Linked DNA regions of Homo sapiens: region 1 is linked to region 2. The links come from fine-mapping of genetic effects on gene expression. A gene starts in region 2. The other region holds a variant in brackets. All regions are shown on one strand. Distances are from middle to middle. Region 1 overlaps CUL3 (cullin 3). Region 2 holds the start of CUL3 (cullin 3).

The links. PIP is the estimated chance that this variant, and not a neighbour inherited with it, causes the effect.
Region 1: its variant is the best candidate, but not a certain one, in a credible set for the expression of CUL3 in whole blood (INTERVAL, PIP 0.87).

Annotation. Positions count from the first base shown.
Region 1 is chr2:224,504,396-224,507,307 of GRCh38, reverse strand. CUL3 (cullin 3) reads left to right here. Exons shown (of 16, transcript NM_003590.5): 7 at 305-450; 8 at 1,176-1,352. Among named protein-coding and RNA genes, the nearest start is that of CUL3, 80 kb to the left of the region's middle. The variant G/T (reference allele first, on the strand shown) is at 1,471.
Region 2 is chr2:224,583,917-224,586,828 of GRCh38, reverse strand. CUL3 (cullin 3) reads left to right here and starts at 1,466. Exons shown (of 16, transcript NM_003590.5): 1 at 1,466-1,885. The coding sequence starts at 1,820. RefSeq lists silencers at 993-1,412, 1,743-2,002.

The DNA of each region.
Region 1 (2,912 bases), 80 kb after region 2:
GACATTACTTGTTTATTATGGTTTTTGACATCTCTTCCATGTAAATTTAAATTTGCTAGGACATTTAATTGATGGTTTCAAAGCATCTCATCTAAAAGTTGTGTTTTATAAATTACAATAATAACCATTAACTAGCCTACTTCTTCATGTTTTCATATCAATATATGTATATTTTTAATAGTCATGTGGTCAGCAAATGGGGGTAATGGAGAAATAAGCTTCTCTCAGTATTATAGCGTGAACAGAGATTCGTGTTTTTTTCTTTAATCTTTAATGTAGCCAATTTGTGTTTTCTGATTTGTAGACCTTGGTTGCATGTACAAGTTATTTAGTCGTGTGCCAAATGGTTTGAAAACAATGTGTGAGTGTATGAGTTCCTATTTGAGGGAGCAAGGTAAAGCTCTTGTTTCTGAAGAAGGAGAAGGAAAGAATCCTGTTGACTATATCCAGGTAAGTAAACCCAGAAGATTCTCTGTGTTTATGATAAAGGCATTTTGACAAGTGCTAAAAAGGCCACTTTTACCATGCTGTGTATTGTGTACTTTCAACTTAATTGTCCCAGTAGTAAATTAATATTTGTAATTATCCTACATATTTTAGGATTTTGCAAGGTGTGCGTATTTATATCAGGGAGCTAAAATTCAGCTGCTACTTTTCATTTAACTTCTTTGATGAAGACCTTGTTTAAATAGCCTCAATAGTGAATGTGAGGTTCTTTGGTATGCCTTAGTGTTTGTATACTGTAGTATATTGGAAAAAACAACTGGTTTAAGTATTTTTTGTTTGAAAATGTTTTGTTTTCAAGGAGTACTATGAATAAATTATGTGCCATGTTTTGTGTTTTAACATAATCAGCTTTTTTTGGTACATTTTTTAAGCTAATTTTTTTCACTGGCTAACCCATTCCATCAAGACAGGAGAATGAGAAACAGTGAGGAGGTTCTTTGGTTCGTTTGCATTGTATTAATACATATATGGAAGTTATAATACTTCTCTCATTGACATTTTTAATAGAGGCTTAGATATAGGCTTGAAAATAATATCAAAACTGTAAGTTTAAAAATGAATATACATGTTTATTACCAGCAAAGTTAAGATAAACATACATGGTCATAAGTGTATTATTTATGGAAAAATTATTATAATGTGTCCTAAATTTTGTTTTTATTTCTAAGGGCTTATTGGATCTGAAGAGTAGGTTCGATCGCTTCCTCCTGGAATCATTCAACAATGACCGTCTCTTTAAACAAACTATTGCGGGTGACTTTGAGTATTTTCTCAACCTCAACTCCAGGTCTCCTGAATACCTCTCATTATTTATTGATGATAAGCTGAAAAAGGGAGTCAAAGGGGTAAGTAGTAATGCATTTGAAAATAACATTTAATTTTATTTAAAGATATAAAATTATATGTAAAATTAGGACATTTCACAGATAAAAATTAAGCATGACCCATTGCTGTGCTTAAATG[G/T]GTGCCATGGTCTATTAAAAAATATTGTTTGAAATACTTGACATGCCCAAACGTAGTTAGACATTTCACTTAATGTGTAATTGGCTTCAAAAACAAGCAACTGGATGGGCTTGGTGGCTCATGCCTATAATCCCAGCATTTGGGGAGGCCAAGACAGGAGGCTCTCTTGAGGCCAGGAGTTTGAAATTAGCCTTGTTAACTTAGTGAGACTCCATCTCTACAAAAAAAAAGAAAAAAGAAAAAAATTAGTGGCACACAGTGGTATACACCTGTTGTCCCAGAAGCTGAGGCAGAGGATCACTTGAGCTCAGGAGTTCAAGGCTGCAGTGAGCTGTGATCGCGTGACTGCACTCTATGCTGGGCGACAGAGCAAGACCTTGTCTCAAAAAAACTGAACAACTGTCCAGGTATGGTGGCTCATGCCTGTAATCTCAGCACTTTGGGAGGCCGAGGTGGGCAGACCACCTGAGGTTGGGAGTTTGAGACCAGCCTGACCAACTTGGTGAAACCCCATCTCTACTAAAAATACAAAATTAGCTGGGCATGGTGGTGGATGCCTGTAATCCCAGCTACTCAGGAGGCTGAGGCAGGAGAATCACTTGAACCCAGGAGGCGGAGGTTGCAGTGAGCCAAGATGACGCCACTGCACTCCAGCTGGGGCAACAATAGCGAAACTCCGTCTCAAAAAAAAAAAAAAAACTGAACAACTACACAGCTGTAGTTGGTAAACAGTCATTTTTATGACTGAGAGTTAGGCATGCTGAAGATAAAGAACTAGAAAACTTTCTAGTAGAGAGTGTTGTTTGCTCTCATCTGGTTCTGAAGGTTATATGTCAAACAATAATTGGATGCCAAGAATATTAAGGCATAGATAGAGTAGATCTCATCTCAGAAAATGGTTGGTGTAGCTCAATTTCAAGCCTTTGTGATATATGATATCTCTGGAACCTGAGGAGCTCACGACAGCATAGAAAATCAACTGAAGCATAAAACATGCTCACATCTGAATTGGTCTCTTTTGACTTCATTTTGGAATTTGTGACACCAAAGGGAAAAGCAACATGTCGTCACAGGTTTTACAGGCAGTAGCTGCAATAAGGGAACAAAATCACTAAGGTTGCACAGAATAGAAAAGTCTATTAATTTATGCATTCATTTGGTCTTCCGTTTTTCAAATATATTAATACAACCTGCCACAGAATCCTTTTGCCCTTATTTAAAAGTAAGGGCAGCCAGGCACAGTGGCTCACGCTTGTAATCCCAGCACTTTGGGAGGCAAAGGCGGCGGATCACCTGAGGTTGGGAGTTCAAGACCAGCCTGACCAATATGGAGGAAACCCATCTCTACTAAAAATACAAAATTAGCCGGGTGTGGTGGTGCATGTCTAATCCCAGCTACTCGGGAGGCTGAGGCAGGAGAATTGCTTGAACCCGGGAAGCAG
Region 2 (2,912 bases):
ACAAAAAAAAAAAAAAAACAAGAAAATATGGTATTTGCAGTGGGGCGTTTTAAGCAAGAAGGGGCTTTAAGCACAACACTCATAAGCTTAGTCATCAGGATTAAGTTAATTTAGGGCAAATTCAACCTTACAGTCAACAAATAAGTGTATTTCACTTTATATTGTTTGCTATTTAAAAGTATTAAAATTCCAGCTTCTAAATGTAGATATCCATCCCCCAAACATATGCTTCTTTAAAATAGGAAGAACACAAACTTTAATAAGAACTCACGTATTCCCTTGCAGAGTCAGAAACCCAAACATAACAGCAATTGGGCAAGTAGGTAAATGAGGAAGTACAATTCATAACAAATGGACAGCAAAACCGATAAGTCAAATTAGACATTTTGACTATAAAGCGACCAAACGCCTCTCCTCCAAAACCAAAAGCCAAAACCTTTTCAAATATACAGCAACTGAATCAGACGGTAATTTTGGCTTTAAAAATCTACAATACTCTTGGTAATGGTAGAAATGATTTATCCGGTAGGTTAAAGATAGGTTTCTATCATTCCACTTAACATTATTTACCAAATGCTGCATTTCATTAATGGAGCTGTCAGTTTATTCTGATGGTAATGAAAAACAGGTTTTAACATGAATAAGCCCTGGGTCCACCAGAAAATATCAGTGAATCAAGAGGTCCCGAAGCTTATGCAGTTTAAGGGAACTTCGTAGATTAAATTTCCACCTTCCAGTCCTGAGAGCTGTGGTGTGCACACCCAGTCCGAATACCTTGTTGAGCATACAGGACACTAATTTCCGACACTGCAGCTAACTCCTGCACAAACTCTTCAAGTTGCAGGCTTCTACTCAAGTACCCATCCCTAGTCCACATGCCCTAGAAAAACACAGGAACCAGTTCGGGACGTAGTTACACATCTAGCACCCCACGCTCCTCCTCAAGACTATCCTCCTGCTGTCCCAGCCCAGTGGGGCCCAGCCCACTACCATCCCGCTCCCGCTCTCCGAACTTCCCCCCTCCCACTCCCCACCATGTGACCAGGACCCTCCCAACCGCCGCTCCGAGCTCCACCAATCAGCAACCACCTCCACCCAGAACCCGGGACCTGGCGCTCCACTTTCAAAAAGGCAGCTTAATCCTCCCGCCCTCAGCCACGCCCCCTTTCCGCTTCCCCGCCCCGCCGGCCCCTCCCACTTCCTTCAGTTCCCTGTTCCCCTCCTCCCCTCCGGTGGCGCCCACCCTCTCCCGGGCTTCGCCCCGCCCACCAGGGGGGCAGCGCGCTCGCCCTCTTCTCGCGAGATCTGAGCGTCCCCCGCGGCGGCCGCCGGGCTCCCCCTCCCGTCCTCCCACCTCCCTCCCCCGGCATCTCTCACTCTCCGGCTCTCCTCCCTCCCTCCTCCCCCCTCCACCCTCTGGGCCGGATCTCGTCTCGCTCAGGCGGAGGAGGAGAAGGAGGAGGAGGAGGACGACGTTCGGCCTGCGCAGTGAGATGTTTGTCCGTCGCCGCCGCCGCCGCCATCGCGGAGGAGCGCGATAAAGGGAGCCGAGCCGGACGTGAGGGGGACCCCGCGGAGCCGCCGCGCCAGCGCAGCCCCCCAGCCGCATCGGAGTCGCCAGAGTCCGAGCCGCCGCCGCCGCCGCCGCCGCCCCCGCCGCCGCCGCGGCTGCCCAGGGGCCGGCCAGCTCCCCAGCCCTGCCCGGGGGTCGCGCCGCCGCCGCCCCCAGCGTCGCCCCTAGCCTGCCTGCCCGCCTTAAATGTGACACCGGCGTCGCGGAGCGCGACCTGAAGCCGCCGCCGGGGAGGGGACGAGCACCATGTCGAATCTGAGCAAAGGCACGGGCAGCCGGAAGGACACCAAGATGCGGATCCGGGCCTTTCCGGTGAGTCTCTCCTCGGCGTCCGGGACCCCGGGGCCGGGGGCCGGGCCGAGAGCCGCACGCGAGGCCCGGGCTGAAGTCCCCCAACAGGCCGCAGGCCCGGCCTCCCCTCCCCCACGCCCGCCGGCCGCGGGGCGCGAGCCTTCCCGGCAACCGGGCGGCGCGGGGCCCCGGCGCGGCCGCCCTCCCGGGCCGTTCCCCGCGCCGGGAGCCCGGGCCTGGCGCCGCGCCCCCGTCCGGGAGCTGCTCCTTCAGCCGCTCCGCGGGCGTCGGCTGCGGCCGGGGCCCCTCGGCCGCCCCACGCCTCCCCACGTTGCCGGGGTTGTAGGCCCAGTCTCCGGCGCTGCTAGCAGCCGCGGAGTCCTCCCTGTGTGGGGCGTGTGTGGAACTTTTCACGTGGGGTTTCGCTACACTTTGAAAATTTACCCAGCCTAGCTTTTAGGGTGATGAAGGGGCTGCCCTCTCTCTCTGCCCCCCTCCCCAGGAAGGTCTATGCCATCAACCTGCCCCCGACGCAGTGACAGTGGTTCCACGGAATGCTCCGTGGTCATAAACTAGTAACATTGGGTGTATTTATAGCGTCTTTCATCCTACAAGCTTCCTAAGCACTTTACAAACTCTTGTGCAGGATTGCCTCGCCACTCGGAGGAAGGCCGGGTGGGGGGGAAGCAACAGAGAGCAAACCGGCCAATTGGTTCTCCATTTCTCAGCCTTGGGAGCCCAAAGAATGAGTGTAGTCGCCTTGCGGAGTAGCTTTGTTTCATCGCTTTCAGTGACAGCAAACGTGTTCTGCTCAGAAACTTTTTCTTTTTTGGCATTACGTTGAGTCGTACCCTTGCGATGTTTAGTATATAGGATATAACTTTGGGTGTCAAATCTGGTTCAGCTTCCCCGTGGCAAGCAATTAAAATGTACTGTTAACGAACTGGGCATACTTGCCTATGTCGCTACAATAAAAGGCATACGTCAAGACAGACGAACTAGCAATCGGACAGAAGATTTTAAAAAGTAAAATTAGAGAAAGATCTTG